Linked DNA regions of Homo sapiens: regions 2, 3, 4, 5 and 6 are each linked to region 1. Evidence: fine-mapped expression QTL. A gene starts in region 1. Each other region holds a variant in brackets. All regions are shown on one strand. Distances are between the middles of the regions. Region 1 holds the start of SUCLG2 (succinate-CoA ligase GDP-forming subunit beta). Region 2 overlaps SUCLG2 (succinate-CoA ligase GDP-forming subunit beta). Region 3 overlaps SUCLG2 (succinate-CoA ligase GDP-forming subunit beta). Region 4 has its middle 130 kb from the start of MIR4272. Region 5 overlaps SUCLG2 (succinate-CoA ligase GDP-forming subunit beta). Region 6 overlaps SUCLG2 (succinate-CoA ligase GDP-forming subunit beta).

What was found. PIP is the estimated chance that this variant, and not a neighbour inherited with it, causes the effect.
Region 2: its variant is fine-mapped to the expression of SUCLG2 in whole blood (TOPMed, PIP above 0.99).
Region 3: its variant is fine-mapped to the expression of SUCLG2 in whole blood (INTERVAL, PIP above 0.99).
Region 4: its variant is fine-mapped to the expression of SUCLG2 in tibial nerve (GTEx, PIP above 0.99).
Region 5: its variant is fine-mapped to the expression of SUCLG2 in unexposed skin (GTEx, PIP above 0.99). The same link has a PIP of 0.9 or more in T cells, sun-exposed skin and whole blood.
Region 6: its variant is fine-mapped to the expression of SUCLG2 in whole blood (TOPMed, PIP above 0.99).

Annotation. Positions count from the first base shown.
Region 1 is chr3:67,652,114-67,656,115 of GRCh38, forward strand. SUCLG2 (succinate-CoA ligase GDP-forming subunit beta) reads right to left here and starts at 2,499. Exons shown (of 11, transcript NM_003848.4): 1 at 2,390-2,499. The coding sequence starts at 2,473. It overlaps SUCLG2-DT (SUCLG2 divergent transcript), which reads left to right and starts at 2,584. Exons shown (of 7, transcript NR_109992.1): 1 at 2,584-2,989. RefSeq lists a silencer at 2,111-2,790 and an enhancer at 2,306-2,805.
Region 2 is chr3:67,618,188-67,622,189 of GRCh38, forward strand. The region is part of intron 1 of SUCLG2 (succinate-CoA ligase GDP-forming subunit beta); the gene reads right to left. Among named protein-coding and RNA genes, the nearest start is that of SUCLG2, 34 kb to the right of the region's middle. The variant C/T (reference allele first, on the strand shown) is at 2,224.
Region 3 is chr3:67,452,279-67,456,280 of GRCh38, forward strand. All of the region lies in intron 9 of SUCLG2 (succinate-CoA ligase GDP-forming subunit beta), which reads right to left. Among named protein-coding and RNA genes, the nearest start is that of SUCLG2, 200 kb to the right of the region's middle. The variant G/A (reference allele first, on the strand shown) is at 2,216.
Region 4 is chr3:67,355,761-67,359,762 of GRCh38, forward strand. No RefSeq gene overlaps it. Among named protein-coding and RNA genes, the nearest start is that of MIR4272, 130 kb to the left of the region's middle. The variant A/G (reference allele first, on the strand shown) is at 1,971.
Region 5 is chr3:67,377,255-67,381,256 of GRCh38, forward strand. The region is part of intron 10 of SUCLG2 (succinate-CoA ligase GDP-forming subunit beta); the gene reads right to left. Among named protein-coding and RNA genes, the nearest start is that of MIR4272, 150 kb to the left of the region's middle. The variant A/G (reference allele first, on the strand shown) is at 1,599.
Region 6 is chr3:67,543,879-67,547,880 of GRCh38, forward strand. All of the region lies in intron 2 of SUCLG2 (succinate-CoA ligase GDP-forming subunit beta), which reads right to left. Among named protein-coding and RNA genes, the nearest start is that of SUCLG2, 110 kb to the right of the region's middle. The variant G/A (reference allele first, on the strand shown) is at 1,805.

The sequences.
Region 1 (4,002 bases):
CGTACTATCAATCAAAAGTCAAAACAGTAAAGCTAACAGCAAAGGTGAAAAAAAAAAAAAAACTTCAATGACACTAAGCATCAGGAATATGTGTCAAATGTTAAATTTAACCATAGGGAGGAGGTAGACAAAATGTCATTCTATGGGTATCTTTGAGAGACCAGTTAAAGTTATTTCTCTAAGCAGAAACTGGGTCTTTTATTTCTGTACAGACAACAGTTTTTCACAAGGCCTGGTGGTATAAAATAGGTCTGGGCCAAGAGTGGCAACAGATTTCTGAGACACTTGGTGAGGATTCTTAAGTATGATGAGAGAAGTGGGCCATGTTTAACTGCAATGTCTGCCACGGGCAAGGGACTATGGAAACGTAATATCAAATCAGTGTACATGAAACAGATCATAGGAAGCACCCAAGAATTTGAAAATAGCAATACTCACCATTTTTATGGACAATTCTAAGATGGTCATAAAGAAAAAAATAAAAATGTGTCAGTGGTGCTAATGACTTGGATGTTATATAGTTACTACTGGCATGCAGATTAATTTGCATGTTGATATAATATATTTTCATGAGGAAGTATATACTCACCAGGAAACAGCATGGTGTAACGGAAACGTAAAGGTAAGCCTTTACTCTGGAATGCCACAAACTCTCACTGTATCGTTGAATATGTCATTGAACTTCTTTAGGCCTCAATTTCTCTACCCATGAAATGAGCTGGCTGGACTAAATGATTGCTAATGTCCATTTCCAGTTCTTGGACACTGTGTACCTTTCTATCTTTAAAAAAACCTACTTTTACCTTCTAAGAATTTACAGAAAAACACATCATCCACAAATATGTAAATCACAGTAACCAGATGGGGCGTGCTAACAGATCTTTTTACCCAGTTTTCTTGACAAACCAAGAGTATCTCTCCCCAACCAGATTTTCTCCTGTGTTGCGTTCAGCCTCTTATTTCTTGGTTAGGGAAGTAGGCTTCACATATTTCAGCTAAACACTCTGCATTTTCAGTTTCTCTGTACAATTCATGAGTTTTCACTGCCCTGGGCCCCATGTTTCTCATCAATTCAAGTCTACACTCATGGTAAGCACCCTAGTTCTTGTTTTTTCTAACACTTAAATAATGAATAGGACTTCATCTCCTAGAGCTATTCTCCTTACTCTATTACAACAGTTATTAGTGAGTTTTAATTAGACAAAACTGCCATTCCTTTTGCTACCTCACTATACTGTCAAGCACCTATTAAGAATATTACAGTAGTAAGTATTAGCACCTTTTAAATTTACATTAACAATAACAGAGAAATGGGGAGGCAGGAAATGAAAGGAGAGGGGTAAAAATAGCTCACAGATGTCATAACCAAAGTTTAGAGGAACTCAAAAAATCATTAATCACTATTTTTTAAATTTTCTAAAAAACTATACTATGCACATCCTGGTTAAAATTGTATGAGTGATAATTTGCCTCTCATCAATTAAAAATGGGGAAATAGGCAAGGTCATTAACTCTGCTGTGGCTGAATCCCAGACTGTGCTTTCTTTAAAAGGGAAGAGAGATAGTCTACGGAGACTAACCAGTTCAGTGGTTGAGTGATTTCTACAAGAGTCATCACCAACTCAAAACTTTCCTGAAGTCCTTCTGACTATTTTAACGCTTGCCATCTGCAGAAGGTAAAAATCTGCTAGAGGCCAAGTTCCAATCGCTATCCAGCCCACCACTGACCCTCTTTGATTTCATTCTCCATCAACAAGGAGGACATGGACAGGGTCAATGGTCTAATGCGTTTTAGTGACAGCCCTGATTTTTCATTGGAAAGAGGAGAAAGATCGTTTCCCATTTTTCTCCTTGACCCACGGATTTGACCAACTCAGGCACATTAAAAGTCTGCAAAAGCAGGTAGCCTGCAGGAAGTTCACCCTAGGGGGTGAGTTCCTAGTTGGGCTGAAACGGGTTTCCAGGCATGTTTATCACGTGGTCTAAACGTGCTCAGGGTTAGTGCCAGAAGTTTGAAAAGCAGAATTAGTAGAGCTGACAATAAAACCTCAGGGCTCCAAAACCCGGTCCAAGAAACTTTTCTTAAACTTGCGTCCAGCGCCTGCTTCAGCGCCTTCGCCATGAGTCTGCGCGGGCAGACAGCGGAGACTCTAGTGCGTTGGGTCGCTCATACCCCGAGGCACCCGGGGCTGCCGCCGCGCCGCCCCTGCCCCACACTGGAGCGGGGTTCCCTGCTGCGCCTGGACCCGGCGCCGCGTCACCTCCCGAAGTGGGGCGCCCGAGGGGCCGCGCAGGGGGTCAGGCGGAGACCAAGAGTAGCAGGGGGCGAGGGAAGCCCGGGCAGGCCGGCGCCGCTGCTGGCGCCCGCAGCTCCTGCCCCCACGCTCACCTGGGACCCGGCCGCCAGGAAGCGGGGCCGCAGCGCTAGGGCTCGCAGAAGCTTCCCGGCCTGCGCTGCTACGGGGGACGCCATCTTAAACAGGAAACTCGGCACGGGGCAGTAGGGCGGGCGCGGGCAGGGGAAGGAGGCGGAGGAGGAGCAGCGGGAGGAGGGGTCAGAGGAGAAGCGGGCGCGGGGAGGAAAAGGAGGAGGAGGCAGAGGCGGTCTGGGCCGGGCCGGGCCTGACCCCTGCGTCCCGGGGGCACAGGCGTTCTTAAGGCTGCAGAGCCCTGGGTCCCCCACCCGGCCCCGGTTCACTTTGAGCGGTCCCAAGGCCTGAGGGCCTACTGTCCAGTCCCCAGGTTATCGTCCTGAGCAAAGACAGACCCCGAGCCCTGCGGTCTTGGGGCTCAAACAGTCCCTGGATGGCCAAACAAGCAAATATTCGCCATGGCAGTGGGTGCTGGAAGGGTGGCTCACGGAGCTGACGCCCTCCGCAGAGAACCGTGGTCTAGTCCTGCGGTCACGAGGCCTATCTGGGACAGTGGTGTTTGAGCTGAGACTTTAACGAATAGAGACAGGTGAGGTTCCTGCAGCCCAGGGCTTCAGGTGAGTCAAGGAGAGGCCATTGGAGGCTCTCCATCCCTTAAGGAGTTGTGGGTGTTTTGTTTTGTTCTATCCTTAACCTAAAATCAATGTAAAGCTGAGAGATGAAGCCGGGTGGGTCGGTTGGGGACTTGGAGAACTTCTCTGTCTAGCTAAATGATTGTAAATGCACCAATCAGCGCTCTGTGTCTAGCTAAAGGTTTGTAAATACACCAGCCAGCCCTCTGTGTCTAGCTAATCAGGTGGGGACTTGGAGAACTTTTCTGTTAGCTAAAGGATTGTAAATGCACCAATCAGTGCTCTGTGTCTGGCTAAAGGTTTGTAAACACACCAATCGGCACTCTGTAAAAACGCACCAATCAGCGCTCTGTGTCTAGCTAAACGTTTGTAAATGCACCAATCAGCACTCTTTAAAAAGGGACCAATCAGCACTCTGTAAAATGGACCAATTGGCACTCTGTAAAATGGACCAATCAGCAGGATGAGGGTGGGGCCAAATAAGGGAATAAAAGCTGGACACCGGCGCCAGTAGTGGCCCCTAGTTGGGGTCTCCTTCCAGGTTGTGGTTGCTTTGTGCTTTTGCTTTTTGCAGTAGCTCTTGCTGCTGTTCACTGTTTGGGTCCGCACTATCCTTATGAGCTATAACACTCACCACAAAGGTTTGCAGTTTCACTCCTGAGGTCAGGGAGACTGCGAACCCACTGGGAGGAATGAACAACTCCGTATGCCCCACCTTCGAGGGCTGTAACACTCACTGCAAAGGTCTGCAGCTTCATTCGTGAAGTCAGCGAGACCACGAACCCACAGGCAGGAACAAACAACTCCGGACGGGCCACCTTTAAGAGCTGTAACACTCACTGTGAAGTCTGCGGCTTCACTCCTGAAGTCAGCGAGACCACGAACCCACCGGAAGGAAGAAACCCCAGATACATTTGAACATCTGCAGGAACAAATTCTGGTCACGCCATCTTTACCGCGAGGGTCTGCAGTTTCATTCTGGAAGTCAGCGAGACGAT
Region 2 (4,002 bases), 34 kb before region 1:
AAGGTGGGTAGATCACAAGGTCAAGAGATTGAGACCATCCTGGCCAACATGGTGAAAGCCCGTCTCTACTAAGAATACAAAAATTAGCTGGGTGTGGTGGTGCGTGCCTGTAGTCCCAGCTACAGGGAGGCGGGGACAGGAAAATTGCTTGAACCCCAGAGGCGGAGGTTGCAGTGAGCCGAGATCTCGCCATTGCACTCCAGCCTGGCAACAGAACAAAACTCTGTCTCAAAAAGAAAAAATGTGCTACTTACTATAAGTAAATTTACTTTTCATCTCATTTGAACTAGGTTATCCCCATCTCACAGAAGAAGTCTGAAGGTGAGACAGGTTGGTTAAGTAGCTTGTCTAAGGCCACTCAGCTGATTAAGAGAGAGTCACGATTTGAATCCAGGTCCCCCTGCCTAAAAAAAACCCATGAGCTTTCTATTATCACATCTGACTTTTTCTCTTTTTAGTCAGTCTGTAAATCCTGTGTCAATTAAAAACTACTTGGAACCACCACAGACAAAAACTATACTGCCATTCCTGACCTAAAATTACTGTTTTCCATTTTAAAGTATGAACAAATAAAGCAGCTGACAAATTGGTAATAATAATAATGACGATATGGTACCTGAAAAGCCAGCGTTGAAGGGATGTAAAACTTAATTAGAGTGGATAGCTAGAGAAGAAAAGTACTTTAAAGTTCCCGCATCAAGAGAAACAACACTTGAGTTATTCTTCACAGGACATCAGACTAGGATCAGACCAGCGTCCGAGACCATTTTTGTTCCATTGACAACGCATCTCTGATAGTGCCACATGTCTTATCTAAGGCCTCTAGCAGTAAAGCAAGCAGCATCAGTTTAAAATAATAATAATAAAATCATCTGTACTTCCAAAAAAGAATTGACAGTTGAGCTTTCAGATTATCCAGAAACTGGATCACAGCAGGTTGCTATTTTAGAATTCATTCTTCTTGGGGTGCCTTGGCAAAGTCTTACGTTGCTGATCCAAATCAAATACTAGTGAACATTTCTGAGTCCCATGAAATTCCAGAAACTGTGTTATTCCACTTGGAAAGCATTACCTCGTGAGATTCTCCAATTAAAGGAAGATACCAGCAGAAGCTCATTTTACAGATAAGCAAAAGAAGGTTCAGAGTAACTAAGTGCCTGCTCAGGGTGACACAGCTGGTTGGAGGCAAAGCCATATTTCAAATACAGGTATGTCTGACTGAGGAGCCTGTGCCCTTTAACTAGGCAGTGCTGGTGTATTATCTCCCAGTGCACAACCATGGGCCCTGAGCCTTGAAGTCAACTGGGGCAAAAGAAGCAGGAGGCTCTGGTTTATAGATTTCACTGCAGGAAGGTACAGAGCTGTACCGAATATGAGGTTCACTGGGAAAATGGGAAGGTGTGAAAGAGAGGTTGCTGGATCGGTTTCCCTAACTCGAAAGAATTAAGATTCGCAAAGATACTGCCTTGTTCTTTTTATCCTAGGTTCAGCAGAAAAGCAGCATATATTTTAAGGAGCAAAGAAATGTAAAACACTTTGTAGTAATGACAAATGCCCAAAGGAGAGTTTGCTGCATAACTCTATAATGCTGCTCTGCCAGCAGCAAGAAAGAAAAGGGAGGGAAAAAAATACAACCTTGATAAACATTAGCATATTAGCACAACAGCAGAAACAAATGTATAAAAGGCTCTAAAAATACCAAACATCCTTTCAGAATGCCTGTCTGTTCCCTCCTGGAGAGTATGCTAGCTCAATCATGTTGTAGAAGAAAATCACCTTAATTTTACCCTGCAAACAGAAGTAGGCAAGATTTATTTATAGATAAAGAAAACAAATTAAGGTAATATAAACATATACTGGCATTTAACTCCTACCAAGGAAACTGGCAGACCTATACTTTGTTCATTCATTTAACAATTTTCCACTGCATCCATAATGTGGTCACTGTGTTTGACATCCAAGATCTAGCAGTAATCAGCACAGACAAGTTCTTTGTGGTCAGCAAGCTTTTGCCCTAGGAGGAGAGGCAGGGAAGAAAGACATGAACACATTAATGAAGAGTGTAATTACAGAGCAGCAAATGCTATGAGGGAAAAGAAAGACACACATGATGAGGCCGGGTGCAGTGGCTCACACCCGTTAACCCCAGCACTTTCGGAAGCCAAGGCAGATGGATCACCTGAGGTCAGGAGTTCAAGACCAGCATGGCCCACATGGTGAAAC[C/T]TTGTCTCTACTAAAAATACAAAAATTAGCTGGGCGTGGTGGCACGCACCTTTAATCCCAGGTACTCAGGAGGCTGAGACAGGAGAACAGCTTGAACGCAGGAGGCAGAGGTTGCAGTGAAACGAGAATGCACCATTGGACTCCAGCCTGGGTGACACAGTGAGACTCCATCTCAAAAAAAAAAAAAAAAAAAGAAAGAAAAAAGAAAAAGAAAAGAAAGACACATGATGAGCTGTGCAGGCCAATTTTAGACTGAGTGGTCACCTTTAAAGAAATGACATCTGTGCAGAAATCTGGAGACAGAAAAGAGGTATACCTGTGAAGGAACTGAGGCAAAGCACAGCAGGCTGAGAGGCCAGCATGTTCCAAGGCTCTGGGGTAGGAAAGGGGTTGGCACGTGCACGAACAAGGGAGTATGGTGACAGAGGAGCATGAAAATGCCAGCAGGGACCAGATAATGCAGGTGCTGGTAAGGCAAATACAGAGTTTAGACTTCATTCACTCAGTTTTAAACAGGGAAGTGAGAAGATCAAATTCACGTTTTAGAAAAGCCACTGTTTTCTGTTTGGAGAATAAAACCAATTGGGAGAGAGCTGCATTAAACCAGATTAAGGTTAGCAAACTTTTTCTATAAAGAGCCAGATAGTAAATATTATAGGCTTTGAGGCCAGGTGGACTCTGTTGCAACTACTCAACTCTGCCTTTGTAGTGCAAACTAGCCATCAATCATAAATAAATTAATAGGCATGGCTGTGTTCCAATAAAGCTTTATTTGGCTAGCAGGCCAGTGTGCTGATCTCTCAACTAGACTATAGAGAAGGGCAGTAGAGGTGGGGACAGAAAGAAATGAGGGGATTCTGGATAAAGTTTGGTGATGAGGTAAAGCTTACTTGTGGATTAGATGTGGGTTTAAGGAAAAAAAAAAGAAATCTAGTATTAGACACACACACACTTTACAATGTTAGTTGATATGCATGTGGTAAATCTGATGTACCTGCTAGTCATAAAAAAGGCACTTCTTTAAAAACAATCTTAACCTCAAATCTTTTGCCCAAACTGGCCTTATAGTTTGAATGTTTCTTCCCTCCAAAAGTCATATGGCACTTAATCTCCAATGTGGCAGTATTGAGAGGTGGGATCTATAACAGGTAATTGGGTTCTGAGAGCTTTGCCCTCATGAATGGACCAATCCATTCAAGGATGAATGGATTAATGGGTTAATGGATTATCATGGGAGTGAAATCGGTGGCTTTCTAAGAAAAAGAAGAGAGATGAGAGCTAGTACTCTCAGCCCCTTCACCATGCATCCCTTGGGGACTATGCAGAAGAGGTCTCATCAGCAAGAAGGCCCTCACCAGATACAGCCCTTTGACCTTGGACTCCTCAGGCTCCATAACTATAAGAAATAAATTCCTTTTCTTTATAAATGACCTAGTTTCAGGCTGTCTCTTATAAGCAACAGAAAATGAACTAAGACATGGCCTATGTATTACATTTAATTATTGACATTTCTGCACATCATTCCACCACATCAGAGCTGCTGGGCCTTTGATCTTATAACTTTCTTCCATTATTTAATATCAATCTCAGCGGGCAACAGGCTACAGTACCTCTATCTGCTACAGTGGCCCATCTGAGATTCTCTCCTAGGAGAGAACACAAGGCCTCCCTTGATTACAGAGATGCTACATAGAAATAACAAAAACCAAAGACATTAAAGCTAAGGATTAATAAGATTGGCCTATCCAATGGAATACTGTAAAATGGTTCCAATGAATG
Region 3 (4,002 bases), 200 kb before region 1:
ATAAAAAGCATAAGTTATCATAATATTTTTAAAGGTTGTAAGTTTCAAGTATTTTCCATGTGTGGCCATGAATTATGCCTATTGAAATATTTTCTAAAAATTTGGGCCTGCTTTTACAAAGACGAGACTGGTTTGTAATTAGTGCATTGATTTTATGTGAATGAGTGCTTTTGAGGTGCTTAATGAGCCAGTAATGATTAATACTTTTAACAGACTAAGAATACTTTTACTTCTATTAGTTTCTTTATTAAACCCTTTCTAATATGTAGAAAACAGGTAAGTTTCAGTTAGTAGCTCAAGTTACCACAAATTCCTTGTCAAATTTACTAAACAATCCACATCCAGTTTAGCTCTTCCTCCCTTCCCACTCTTCCTCCTTTCCGCCCTTCCCTCTCAAATATTTATTGAGCATCTAGCAAGTAGATTACTAAATCCAACCCAAGACACTCCCCTGCATCAGAGATAACATCTAATAAATTCCTCTAATTGTCATTCTGTGACTGAAATTGTATTCAGGACCGCATTTCTAAATTATAGTTCAATTAGTAGCTTTGTTTACAAGTCATGAATACCATTTTAATTTTGCAGATCTTGGTAACACATATAAGAATCTTCTAGCCATTGCACTGCCTTTTGAAACTGCATAATCTCGCACGTTTTAAAGGAGCCTCTGGTATTATTTTCTTTTCAATGTAATCATAGATGAAGGTCTAAAGTAGACCTTCCCATTCTCTTTCTGAACTCCTTTAAGTTCTTTAATTATAACCCTGAAATGCATCTCTTTTGCGTGCCCAACATCTTCAGCATATTTCTCTTCTTTACCCTGCAGCTGATTAGCAAGGACTACAACACTGAATATCAAATATTATGATTTTTGAGTTATATGAGCATTTTCCTTTTCACAGGAATAATATGAAGAAAATTACCTCAGTACATTCAGACTTCTTTTTTTTTTATGAGTATTTTCTTTTAATTCTTATTGATAGTCTAAAACAAAACACCATTAACTGGATAGTTTATAAACAACAGAAATTTATTTCTCACAGTTCTGGAGTCTGAAAGATCACAATCCAGGCACCAACAGATTTGATGTCTGGTGAGGGCCTGTTTCCTGGATTACAGGTGGTGCCACCTTCTTGCTGTGTCCTCACATGGCAGAAGGAATGAAGGAGCTCCCTTGGGCCTATTTCATAAGGACACTAATCACATTCATGAGAGCCCACCCTCATGAGCTAATCAACTGCTAAAGGCCCCACTTCCTAATATCATCACCTTGAGGGTTAGGATTTCAACTTACGAATGGTGGGGAGAGGGGCACAAACATTCAGAACACAACAAAATTATTTAGCATGAATATATATATGTATTGCCTTACTGGTTACCAGGCTACAAATCAGGAAGTAAGAAAACAATCTTCCAATGCAGTTATTTTCAAGTAGTGGGAAACTCTTGATATTCCTTAATAGAGGGGCCACATCAAGCCTTTGGCTCCCAAGAAGGCAATGCCTCTTGAAAACTACTGTGTTCACTGGTCACATGTGTATCAGTTACAAATGTGACCATCCAGTTGAAACATAATTCTAGCTGTGTATGCCAGAAATATATCTAGATATAACCAGAATGCCACGATGTACTTGGGCAAACCCCCAAGGTTGTCGTTGTCGTGCATTTTGTGTGTGTGTATGTGTGTGCAAATGGCTTAAATATTCCATTACTGCCTATTGTTCTTACATAAAACTTTTCAAGAAAATTAGAAGTTAATAGGCTGACTGATGACAGCCTTATATCAATATAAATTGCTTAAAATATTCTTAGGCCTAAGTGGATGTAAATTTTTATGTTCATTCCCAATGTTGGATAAGAAGTTGACAGAGCTGCACAAAAATTGCAAAAGAAACATTCTAAATCATGAGCTCTTTAAGTACAGGGACGAGGGACGACATCTTACCCATTTATATATCTCCAGGATTTGGAACAGTAGCTGGTATATAGAGTAATTGTTGAATAAATAATATGAAAAATTGGTTTGAGATCCAGGAACAGAGTAAAGGATAGGGTTGTGGTCGCACTGGTGGTTACAAGGCAATACTTTTTTACCTTTCAAACTAAGAAAAACATCAAATATATAAAAAAAAAATAGAAGGTGAAATAATTATACAGCCTACCCATGTATCCTCTACCTACCTTTAGTAGTATTTAACGATTTGCCATATTT[G/A]CTTTCTCCCTCTCTTCCTCTCTATATCTATCTCTATAGAGATATATGTAGCTATACATATATAGATAGATGGATAGTTGTTGAAGCATTTCATACTGAGTGGCCTACATCATGACACTTCACTCCCAAATGCATCTCCTAAAAATAGGAACATTGTCCTAATCACACTACAACATGTAAGAAAATGGGCCGGGCGTGGTGGCTCATGCCTGTAATCCCAACACTTTGGGAGGCCAAGGCGGGTGGATCACAAGGTCAGGAGATCGAGACCATCCTGGCTAACAAAGTGAAACCCCATCTCTACTAAAAATACAAAAAATTAGCCGGGCATGGTAGTGGGCACCTATAGTCGCAGCTACTTGAGAGACTGAGGCAGGAGAATGGCGTGAACCTGGGAGGTGGAGCTTGTAGTGAGCAGAGATGGCGCCACTGCACTCCAGCCTGGGCGACAGAGTGAGACTCCGTCTCAAAAAAAAAAAAAAAAAAAAGAAAATGAACAATTCCCCTATTGTCATCTAATATGCAGCCTGCAGTGAAATATTCCCAGTTATCCCAAGAATGTTTTATAGACACACATACCCAAAGCAGTATCCATTCAAAGTTCACACATTGCATGTAGTTCTTAGGGTCTATTTCACATATTCAGTGTTTTAGATTTACTTATTTCAAGTTTTCTATTTCTATATATATTTTAGTCCATTTGTCCCTGAATTGTAGCAAGTATTTTCAAATCCATAACTTGAAACTGAGCTTTGTGGATTAAGGCAAAAAGGACATTGTAGATGCCTCTGGCCCATCCTCCTCACACTTTGAGTAAGTGAGGGTCTTCTGGTCCATCCTCCTGCACATCAGGCGTTATTTCACTCTTGACATACACTTGTGATGTGGGGCATAAATCACCATAAGCATCTTTCATGTTTGCCTAACCAACTCAGTTTAAATCCCATGACTAAAAAGGGAGCCTACTTTCCAGAATCAGACTGGAGGAAAAGAGGAGATTTTAAATTTCTTCCTGCTCCTAAAAATGGAATGCTTGAAAGTGATATATACTGGCAATGTAAAATAGTTTTGATGGGGAGAGAATGCAGAAATTAACTTTCTAACTTAAACAATTTCAATTTTGTAATTCTCAATGTTAGCACAAACACTATAATCAAAATTCACTGTACTGTGCTCTAGGTACTGGGTGGAGGAAAAAAAAAACACTGATGGGACAAAGATCTTCTTAGGGAATATGGCAGAGAAAGTGAAAAAGCATGAGGAATAAAGATTTTCAAATATGGGTATCTGAAAGGGTAGGCCTTTCCATTTTGTTCTACTACCCAGTGTTTCAATCCCGGCAAGAACACCACAATATTCCAGGTCTTTACCTCCATCACCCTGCCCTAAGGATATGTGGGGTAAGGGGCACTGTTGTGCCCAAGGCTCTTCAAATTTAACGTATTATTACCACTGTTATTATATTTAATTCTACCACTGGAAGTAGTAAGACCTCAATCAGGGGTGATTCACTCCCATGATATTGATCAGTATAAGGCAGAGACTATTGGGATACCAAGTGTTAATTCTTCTTTCATTAGTGGCAGTATCTCAACAGAATGTCAATTTTATAATATTTTTCAGCATCCCTTTCAACCTGGAATCATGTGATTGCTGTCTGGGTAGTGAGGTGGGACTTCCGGGATTCAGCCTGGCCTTCCTCCTCCCTTGATACATGAATATCTTAAATTATACTGCATAGGACTCTCTTCCTTTATTACCAATCAAATAAAAAATTAATTGGGTCA
Region 4 (4,002 bases), 300 kb before region 1:
TGTACGTATGTATCTATGTATTTGAGACAGGTTCTTACTCTGTCCTCCAGGCTGGAGTGCAGTGGTGCAATCTCGGCTCACTGCAGCCTTGACCTCCTGACTCAAGTGATCCTCCCACCTCAGCCTCCCGAGTAGCTGGGACCACAGGTGCTCACCATCATACCCAGCTATTTTTTTGTATTTTTAGTAAAGATGGGGTTTTGCCACGTTGCCCAGGCTGGGACACTCTTCTCATCATAGCCTCCAAGATGTTGTTCTTTTTTTTTTTTTTTGAGATGGAGTCTTGCTATGTCACCCAGGCTGAAGTGCAGTGGTGCGATCTCGGCTCACTGCAGCCTCTGCCTCCTCTGCCTCCCGGGTTCCAGGGATTCTCCTGCCTCAGCCACCTGGGTAGCTGAGATTACAGGCATATGCCACCACGCCTGGCTAATTTTTGTATTTTTAGTAGAGATGGGGTTTCGCCATGTTGGCCAGGCTGGTCTCGAACTCTTGATCTCAGGTGATCCACCCGCCTTGGCCTCCCATAGTGCTGGGATTACAGGCATGAGCCACTGCGCCTGACCCAAGATGTTCTTCTATCAGTTTTTCACTCTCTTCTTATTGGTGTCTTCAATATCTCCTTCCTGATAAGATTCAGAAATCTGGATCTTATGCTCTGGAATCATAAACATTTATGTTCTAATTCTGGGTTTTCGATCTCTGTGTGATCTTAGGAAAGCTGGTTAACATCATTGAGCCTCAGTTTCTTCATGGTAAAGTGGTAATTGTAATGCCTAGCTCAAAGAATAGCAAGGAGGATTAAATGAGATAATGTATATAAAATGTCTAGGAGACTTCTGGGCAAGACATTGGCACCTTAGATTCAAACACTGGTGCACATCCTCTCCTCTAAGCAAATAATAAGGGTAGGCAGAACCTTAAAAGAGAAAAGTAATAACATATGTGGAGGCTAAAAAATAAGATAAATCTATCTGGAACCAAAAACTGAACAGAAATACAAAGTCATAAAAGGAGCTGAAAATGGAGGCCTGTTGGACTCTGTTTCCGAAATAGGCAGTGGCTACCAAGAGCTAGGCTTCTATGTGTCAACAAGGACCAAAGGAAAGGCACACAAGCGAGGCAACTGGAATCAGGAGTGACAGGGATCCAGTGTCTGGGGAGAAACTTTTCCATCCCATTGGCAGCACCATTTTCCTTTTTCAACTACAGGCTGCAGTTGTTTTCCACACACTCCCATCTTAAGGCGCCTGTAAGTGCCGTGTTCATAATTCAGTTTCTATTTCCCTTCCCATACCGCTACACTTTTATTGAATGTACATTTTGCATTCCTGTGAAAAACTCACAGTGATTTATACTGATATCCCAGTGGAGCAGGAACCTCAAGGTGACATTATAAGGACTCAGGGTCCAGCTGCTGAATGTAGACAACTGAAAGAGGGAGCAAGAGGAGGGAAAAGAGGGAAGGAGAGAAAAGAAAATAAGAACAATAAACAAAAGTAAATTAAATACTGATTCATCTGCAGCAGAATTTATTCCTGAAAAAATCTATTTTATAAAGGAAACTGACAATGGCTTTAAAATAAATGTTTCAGGTATTTAAAGACAAAAATGAGTAAAACCATGAACATAATAGATTACAACACATAGACTTGGGAGAAAAGAAATAATGATGAGTAAAGAAACTGATGAAATATGTCAGCAAATTTAATGAAGTATTGACTATTTTGGGTGTGTGTTAAACAACACTGTGTTTAGAGAAAAAAAACAAGATGGGGAAAGGGAGCAATTTGGTTAATTAAATTGTGATAAGTAGGAGGATAGAAATGATTAAAAATAGATTTGTTTAAAATATTTATAGTTAAATAGGTAGGTGAAAAAAATTCAGGGTTGCCACTAAAAGTAAACAATACAATATATGCTTTCTGTATTTGTTTTCTACATCTGTACAACAAATTATCACAAATTTAGCT[A/G]CTTATAAAAATACATACATTATCTCAGAGTTTCTGTGGGTCAGGAGTATGGGCACAGGCTGGCTGGGTCTTCTCTGTTCAGTGTCTCACCAGGCTGCAATCAAAGGGTAGGCCTAGCTGTGTCCTCAAGTGAAGGCTCTCTTAGGGAAAAATCTACTTCCAAGCTTCCTAAGGTTGTTGGCTGAATTCAGGTCCTTGCAGCTGTAGGCCTGGAATCCCAGAATTCCTGCAAGTGTTGGCGAGACGCTGCTCTCAGCTCCCAGGAGGTATTTCCACGTCGTTGTCACCTGACTCCCTCTATAGGCAGTTCACAAAATGACTGTTTCTTTGAGGTCAGCAGGAGAATCTCTCAGACTCCTGTTTCTGATCTCTAAACCTTCATTTGAAGGGCTCCCATAATTAGATCAGGCCCAACCAGGATAACTTCCCTCTTCATTAAGTTAACTGATTAGAGACTTAAATCGCATCTTCAAAATCCCTTCCCCTTGGCTGCACAATGTAACCTAAGCACTGGAGTGCTGTCCCATCATATGCACCAGTCCTGCCCACACTCCAGGGAAGATTATACAAGAAGGTGGGAATTTTAGGGGCCATCTTAGAATCTGCCAACCACAGTCTGTCCTTTGAATCCCCAATGATTTACATTCCTCCCAGATGCAACATGTATTTACCCCTCTCAAAGTTCCCACCAGTCTTATCTCATTACAGCAACAGCTTACAGTCCAGTAATACCATATGTTTGTATGTGTATATCTTTTTCAACTGAAAAGGAGCAATAAGAAACAAAAATGAATGATAAACAGAAGAAACAAAAAATTGTAGAAAGAAATACAAATAAACCAATAATCACAACAAACATAAAGAAATTAAGTTTATTTTTTAAAAGATATAGATTTTTTAAATGAGTAAAGTGCACAGAGTCCAGCTATATGTTTCTTAAAAAACTACAACAAAATGCAGAAAGATTAAAAGAAAGGAACTAAAAAATATATGCCAGTAAAATTGTAATCCCCAAATATCTAGGGTTCTAATATAACATCAGATAAAACAGAACCTAAATCCAAATTATTACAGGGTTAAAGAAGAATACTACTAATGATACAAAAATAACTTCCTAAGATATATAATAATAATTAATTTATGCACATCTAACAGCATTCTCTCTCTCTCTACACACACACACACACACACACAATCATATTGAAACTGGGAACTTTTAACACAACTCTATTAAGTTTATTAACTTAATAATAGTAGAAAAGATTTGAAAACAGAATGAACATGTTTGATGTAATGAACTATAATAAAATTTGTACCTCTATGTTCTTTTCAAGTACAAAGATGCCATTTACAGTAATTAACTGTATCATAATCAAATGTCAACACATCTCAAAGTTTCAATATCATAGCGACTATGTTATCTCACTGTAATGAAATTAAACCAGAAATTAAAAATTAAAAGATAGATAAAAGATCATATATTTAGAACTCTAGAACATTCACTCCTAAATAACATAATCCAAAGGAAAATAACAGTGAGAGAATTACAAAGTATTTAGGATAGAACACCAATGAAAAGACAGCTGAAACTGCAAAATTAGTGAGATGCAGATAAAATATTTACAGGTAAGTTTAAATGGATCTATTCAATATCAAGAAAGACTAAATATAAATGAGTTAAGTATTTAAAGATCTAGACAAAGAATTTAGAAAGAGTAACTCAAAATAATCAGAAGAAAAAATAACAAACATAATCAAGAAATACATAAAATAGAAAACTATAATACACTGGGGCGAATGAACGTGACCACAGCTTGGTTCTCTGAGAAACAGAAAAGGCTGTAGCAAGACTAATTTTTTAAGAATAGGCATAAATAAACAATAACAGCAAGAGAAAAGGAGAAAGATACACCACAGATACTAAAAATGCAATAGTCTGAGAATCAAGGTAATTACATTCTGCTTGTTGATGACTGAGGTAGGAGCAGGCATATGACAATTCTTGTGAAAAGGACAATGAGAAAAAAGGAGA
Region 5 (4,002 bases), 270 kb before region 1:
TTCTAAAGATATGCTAGTCTGCTTACCTACTTGAAAAATGAGGACAGTATAGCTGATGGTATAGATTGTGATGAGAAGCAAATGAAATGAGTGTAAAAGCATTTTTGTAAATGGTGCAGTATCTGTGGCAGGCCTGGCTGGCTTTGCACCACAGACTCCTGCTCCTCTTCTGCAGTAGAGTGCTATTGCTGGAAAGCAGCTGCCCAGCCAGAAACTACATTTCCCAGGCCCCCCTGCATCTCGAAGGGGACATGTGACTGAGTTCAGGCCAAAGGAATGTCACATGGCCATGACAATCTCCAAAGGGACTCTTCACACTCGGTTTTCCTTGTCTGCTTTCTGGAGTGTTCCTAGCTGGGGCAGCCCTGGAAGTCACCTTTTTGGTTCTGGTTGTGTTTTGTCTTGCTTTTTGTTTTTGAGATAGGCTCTCGCTGTGTCACCCAAGATGGAGTGCAGTGGTGTGATCTCAGCTCACTGCAGCCTCAGCCTCCGGTGCCCAAGTGATCCTTCTACCTCAGCCTCCCAAGTAGCTGAGACTAAAGGCACACATCACCACGCCCAGCTATTTTTTGTATTTTTTGTAGAGATGGGGTTTTTCCACATTGCCCAGGCTGGTCCTGAACTCCTAAACTCAAGGACTCCATCTGCCGTGGCCTCCCAAAATGCTGGGATTACAGGCATGAGCCCTTGCACCCAGCCAAATCACTTCTTGAAGATGGCAATGACTCCTTCAGCCTGGATACTTTAATAACTCTCTGGAGCCAAGCATCTTACCCACTCACCCTCTTAGACCTTATGGGAATGAGAAAGACCCTTCTATAATGTTAAGACTCTGAAATTTCTGCATTTTTCTGTTGTTACAGGAGCTAGCATTATTTTGACTAACATATGACTTTGTAAATGCTGTGGAAGGCAGCTTCTAAAATGGTTTTCAAAGATCAATCACTCTTGCCTCCTGGTAGTCACATCTTTGTAGAATCCGTCCCCCTTGAGTATGATCTGGACCCACAGCCTTACTTCTAATAGATAAGAACATGGCAAAAGTGATGGAGTGTCACTTCTGAGACTAGGTTACAAAAGCCTGTGGCTTCAGTCTTGCTCCCTTTAACTCTTTTTTCACTCTGATGAAGCAAACTACCCTGCTATGAGCTGCCCTCTGGAGAGACTCACCTGGGCAAGGAACTGAGGGCAAACTCTGGCCAACGGCTGATGAGGAACTGAGGCTCTGGGTCTAATAGCCAAGGAGGAAGTGCATCTGGCCAAGAACCATATAAGGGATCTTGGAAGCAAATTCTTCCCTAGTCAAGCCTTGAGATCACTACAGCTCGGCTGACACTGTGATTGCAGCCTTGTGAGAGACCCTGAGTGAGAGGATCCACCTAAGCCACACCCAGATTCCTGACCACAGAAACTGTGAGATAATAACTGTTCTTTTTGTTAAGCTGCTACATTTTGGGGTAATTTGTTAAGTGCTGATAGGTAAGTAACACAGATGTAAAAATGTATTATTTCATTAACACAACCTGCGTGCACTTTGATTCATTTGACTGTGGCAGGTGTTAGATAGCAGGCTAAGGAATTTAGAAACTAATCAAAGC[A/G]TGGCTTTCATGGAGTAATGACAGAGTGTGAAACAAAAGCCCTGATGGACACAGGAGCAAACCAGTCTTTGGACCAGAAGGTAAATGACAGTTACACGTGTAAATTTTGTTTTAGACAGAGTCTTGCTCTGTCACCCAGGCTGGAGTGCAGTGGCGTGATCTCAGCTCACTGCAACCTTCACCTCCCTGGTTCAAGCAATTCTCCTGCCTCAGCCTCCTGAGTAGCTGGGATGAGAGGCAGTGGCCACCTCTCCCAACCAATTTTTGTATTTTTAGTAGAGATAGGGTCTCACCATGTTGGCCAGGCTGATCTTAACCTCCTGACCTCAAGTGATCCACTTGCCTCGGCCTCCCAAAGTCTGGGATTAGAAGCATGAGCCACCGTACCCCATGTGTAAATTTCTATCTCCTCCTGCAGAGACGTAGACTAGGCCCTTCTTCCTCTTCCTTTCTTCTTTTGAGCACCTTCCAATCTCAATGCAGCTCTAAGACCTCCAGATAGGTGCAGGAGTGGCGCTCCTGATGTCTTCCTCCATTTCAGATCCTGCTCTTTCTGGAGACTAGTTTTTTATCACGGTTCCCACTTATTCAGATAACTTCTTATTCAGTTTTACCTGAGTTCCTTTGCATGTGTATGGATGAAATGAGCTCTTGATCTTCTTAATTTTTTGAGATAACTTTAATGAGTTGTGCTTCCTTGCAACCAAGTAATCTAAATAATTTAGTTCCTTAATTAATATCCTCTTTTGCACCCAACTTAGCACCAGTATTCCCAAGGGAAAAGAAATGATTTAGAAATTCATGAGCACAAAGATGTGCTGGGCCACTGCCCTTGCTGGGCTTTCCACCCAGAGCTCTGTTGGGCTGACACCTCTCTCCACTGGGCTGACACCCATTCATTCACAAGGCATCTGTTAAATGGTATTTCTTTGGGGATATCTTTCTAATCACCACCTCCCCATGCCCCAACTAAAGCAGGGGCTGGTACAATGAACTTCTGGAGCACCTTGTATTTCTAAAATCTTACCATGGATGAAGTCTTATTGGGATGACTTACTGATGCTTCCCTCGTCCCCTCTAAACATCCACTTTCCTTTGTCAGACTTGCTTACTGGATACCTCCCAATATCCGTTAGCTAGCAGTACGTGCTGACCGACGGGGTAACTCCAGATGGATTCCCACATACAAAGTGTGCTTGACGAGAAGAGGAGTGGGCGGGTACTTTTTGATAGATCTCCTTGCTGTCCTAACAACCCTTTCCTATAGGGTTGAAATAGATACCGCAAACTGCTCAAGGTGCAATCAGGAGGGATTTTTTTTTTTTTTTTGGAGTCCTCTCACAGTTACCTAGGGGTTTTGGGAGTGGCTCCTTTTGCTGGGAAGGGCCCAGGAAGAGCTGGCTGTGCTCACTGCCCTGAGTGAGGACTCCAAGCTGTTACCACTTCTCCCAACCTGTAGCAGCTTCAAGTGCCCCAGTCAAGTGAGGCCTTGCTCCAGGCTAACACTGGTGGACAGGGCCAGGGAAGAAAGGGGACGGAGCAGTTTCCCAGAAAACCACAACCCTTCTCTCCTCCCAGCTGCTCCTTCAGTGCCATGTGAAAATGCCTAATTGCTTCATAATTCTAGGATCCACAAAAGTGAATTTTAATTATACTTGCAGTTACACTTTAATTACCACCTTAATTATTAAGCATATACTAGGCATGCTCAGAACTAAGCAGTTTTTGAAGGGATTCTCATATTCAAATATGAAGCTCATCTGTTATGAGAAATGGGTCATATGCAGAGCCATCATGACCAGGTAGAAACTTGTTACAGAAGGGGAAAGGGGGGTAGAGAGAGAGAGAGGGAGATAGAGAGAGAGACAAATGAAGAGAGAGACAAGAGACAGAGTCATGGGGAATAGCTCAAAAAGGAACAGACATAAGAAAAAAGACAGGTAGAGAATAAGAGAAAGTAAAGGAAAAAAATGAGTTTGCCAAGTGCCTTCCACACCAGCCCCTACCCTGATGCTGGCACCATCTCTTTGCAGCATTCAACCTGGTTTCTCCTTGAAGGCATAGCTCTACTGCCCACTGACCCTGCCCTTGTCGTTAACTACCACTTGCTTCCTCCTTCCTGTTGAGGGAACAACTGGAAGGGGAGGTGGGGACACGCAGAGAAGAGGGATTAAAAGGAAACCAGCTGGGCATGGTGGCCTGTAGTCCCAGCTACTCAGGAGGCTGAGGTCAGAGGACCGCTTGAGCACAGAAGGTCAAGGCTGCAGTGAGCTGTGATTGCACCACTGCACTCCAGCCTGGGCAACAGAGTGAGACCCACTTCTATTTTCAAAATAAATAAATAAATAAATAAAATAAAATAAAATAAAATAAAAGTAAAACAGCAGAGAGTGGAAACAGGTTA
Region 6 (4,002 bases), 110 kb before region 1:
TTTCTGTATCAGCCTTTACCATTTTACCACATGGGGTCGGGGTGTTTATATTTGAGGAAGCCTCTAGAAGATATCTTAAGGACACATGGCTGAATACCTTATAACATGACCTCCTAAAGAGTCACGCAAGAAAACTGGGAGTGGCAGGAAAATGTTTTGCCCTTTTAAAATATTAGTGAGCACTTACTTATTCTATGGGAATTCAAAAAATTTTTTTAAATGTCATGGTCATTGCCTTTTGTAAACTTAAAATTGACTGGAAGAAATAGACACAAACAAATTACTGAAAATTTTTAATTTATAATAAGCATTAAGAAGCAAATTAGGAAGGGGAAATGGTGTCAAGTAAAGCTGAGAAGGAAAAAGGACGGAAGAACTATTGATATGGTTTGGCTCTGTGTCCCCACCCAAATGTCATCTCAAATTGTAATCCCCTGTTGTGAAGGGAGGGACCTAGTGGGAGGTGATTGGATCATGGGGATGATTTCCTCCATGCTGTTCTCATGATAGTGGGTAAGTTCTTACAAGATATGATGGTTTAAAAGTGGCACTCCCCACTTCACTCTCTTTCTCTCCTCCCAGCTTGTGAAGAAAGTGCTTGCTTCCCCTTCGCCTTCCACCATGATTGTAAGTTTCCTGAGGCCTCCCCAGCCACGCGGAACTGTGAGTCAATTAAACCTCTTTCCTTTATAAATTACTAGTCTCAGGGAAGCAGTGTGAGAATGGACCAATACAGCTATAAAGAGAAGAGTACTTGGCCAACGTCATGAGGAAGAGCTGTGAGACTTCTAGGAAGATGGGACTGGAGAGCAAGGACATGGAGTGAAAAACAACTAAAAAAAGGCTACTTTGCTTTTCTATTTATTTCTGTTTGGCTTTCATGGTTTGCTGTTTAAACTAGAAATCACTATAGCACCACTTCAAATAAAGCAGCAAATCATGCCAGGATCCTGCACTATAAATCATTCAAATTTGCTATTTCAGATATTCAGAAAACTTCTACAGATTAAAGTTTATTTCCCTATGTTCAAGAACAGCATATAAATAGAAAATACATTGATCATCTTTGTTAAATTTAGATATTTTACCCCAAATACTTTTAAGAGCTCTAATAATTTTATCATGCCAGTCTCAAAACAGCTCCCAACCAGGTAAGCTAACTCTCAGATAAAACAGCCCCCAGCCAGGTAAGCTAACTCTCCTATAAAAGTTCCTCAAGGGGTCAGTGAGATTCATACTAAGCATTATTTAGTAGCAACAATAATAAAGTATACGCTCCCCTCCTCCCATCCTGCAAAGAAACACATATTCCATACTTTAAATCTGCTATAATTCCAAATGCTAGAGATACAGAATTCCAGACAACAGCTTGATGTTGTTGCCATAAAAAGGAATCCAGGAGGCATTTGTCTTCAATTTTAAAGTTTGTAAAGTGGTCAATGACATGCTGGAGTTAAGCAGAAGCCAGGAATGACCTACCCCAAGAGAGATGAAAGATCTCAGAACCACTTTCCCATGATACACACATCTACTGAGGTCCAGCATAACTGTTATGCTGCTTTCAAATTGCACTGAGTTTTAAATTGCAATGTCTTGCTCTTTTATTGCCTGTCTTGATGCATTCATTGTTTTTGAAATCTAAGTCTATTGCTCGAATGTTAAACACAGAGGGGACTTTAGATTACATCCTGGAGGATGAAACTGAGCAGTATCAATGAACTTGGAAGAGTTTATATTTGGCTTTCAAGGGTTGTGAAGGCCTGAGAAATAGCTATTTCCTTTTCTCTTTATGCCACTTTCTTTG[G/A]TTTCCTCCTTCTCTCCTTCCCTGCCTCATGCTTTCTTCCTTTCTCCCTCCTCCCTCCTTTCCTCTCTCCTTTTCATTCTTCCTTTTCCCACCTGCTTCCCTGCAATACTTCCAAGTTATTTAATTTGCATGTTTGACTATATCTCAGATAACTAATTTCAGTTCCAGCAGCCAGAGAGATCCACATTTACTTCAAATTCTACCCTCCATTACACTCTCCCACAGAACCACTCCCAAATAAGAATGTATCCACTTAAATCCCTGTGAATTGGAACACTCATTATCAATGTGCTACACCTAACCACAGAAGCCATAAAACCTGAACCTACTTTCTTGGACTGTTTTCAAAACGACATTTCTGATTATATGTGAGCATTCAAATCTCTTCTGGCACTTTCTGCATCTTATTTTTCAATGCCTGGCTTGAGCTAGAATTCATACTGGGGGAAGTCAGGCCAAGTGTTATAAATGGGAAATGAGGGAATTAACAAGCTGGTATAAATTTTACTTCTTGGAGTAAAAGAATACAAAATTTTTTGACTTGAGTTTGGAATTATACCACCCAAGACAGCACAGGAAAATACTTAAGAGCTAGCATCCATATCTGGTAAAACTGAAATAAAATTTGGCAGCTTTTAAGTAGTTCTCCAATGGTATTAGTGTGGCACAGAAATCAAGTCCTGTTTCATATGAACCAAGCAGTCCTACAGGAGGATACCCTTTGAAATTCCAATCATTACAAGAAATTTGCACTAATGATTCATATTTCAGGCCGGGCAGGGTGGCTCACACCTGTAATCCCAGCACTTTGGGAGGCCAAGGCAGGTGGATCACTTGAGGCCAGGAGTTCGAGACCAGCCTGGCCAACATGGTGAAACCCCGTCTCTACTAAAAATACAAAAATTAGCCGGGCGTGGTAGCACACGCCTATAATCCCAGCTACTCGGGAGACTGAGGCAGAAGAATAGCTGGAACCGGGGAGGTGGAGGTTGCAGCGAGCCGAGATTGTGCCACTGCACTCCAGCCTGGGCCACAGAGTAAGACTCTGTCTCAAAACAAACAAACAAAATTAGCTGAGCATGGTGGCAGGTGCCTGTAATCCCAGCTACTTGGGAGGCTGAGGCAGGAGAATTGCTGGAACCGGGGAGGCAGAGGTTGCAGCGAGCTGAGATTGTACCACTGCACTCCAGCCTGGGTTACAGAGTGAGACTCCATCCCAAAAAATAAACAAACAAAAAAGATTCATATTGCATCATCACAGCTGGAAAGCTAGCATATAAGTCTATTCCTCCTATCCACACACAGCTTGCTAATATGGCTAATGTTTTTTCTATACCCCCACATTCTCTGCTATGGTCTGAATGTTTGGGTCTCTTGTACCCCAAAATTCATAAGTTGATATCCTAACCCCCAGGTGATAGTACTGGGAGGTGGGGGCAGAGACCTCCTGCATGGGATTAGTGCCCTTCTAAATGGGACCCCAGAGAGTTCCCTCATCCCTTCTACCACGTGAGGACACAGCTAGAAGGCAATATGTGTTAAGGAGAAAGCAGGCTCGCCTCAGACACTGCATCAGCCTTGGTCTTAGACTTCCCAGCCCCTAAAGCTATGAGAAACAAATTTCTGTTGTTTATAGGCCACCCAGTCTCTGGTATTTCCTTACGGCAGCCAGAATGAACTAAGATACTCCCTGAACACATAGTGTTTTACTCTATTTTCTACTTTAGTTTTCAGCAACATGGACATCCAGAAGTAAACAATACATCTATAGAATTACCTGAAATACTCTCCTTCGTCCTCAAGCACTGGTGCCCTTAAATCCAGCTGCAGCCTCTTCCAGGTTCCTGACCCTTTCTCATTGCCTCCCAGCAGGAGGTGGAACAGTCTGTCATAATGCATAAACATGATTTGACTGTGGGGAGGGGGCAGATCTTGCTACCCTAGAAGAATTTCCCAGGATACCTGTCCAAAAAGCTAAAAACAGAATAACTCCAGAAAAGAAGATGTCCTAGCCTTATGCAAAGGGAACAATTTTCACGAATCAACTAAATTAACACTGACTTGGGAATGCTACCAAGTCTAACAAAGCAGATGCCACCTCTCCTCTGAAGGCCCTTGGAGTTCAAAGGAGATGCTACAGCAAGGGGGATCCATGAAGCCAGGGAGAGATTCTGTCAAACCTAATGAAGCCACTCTCC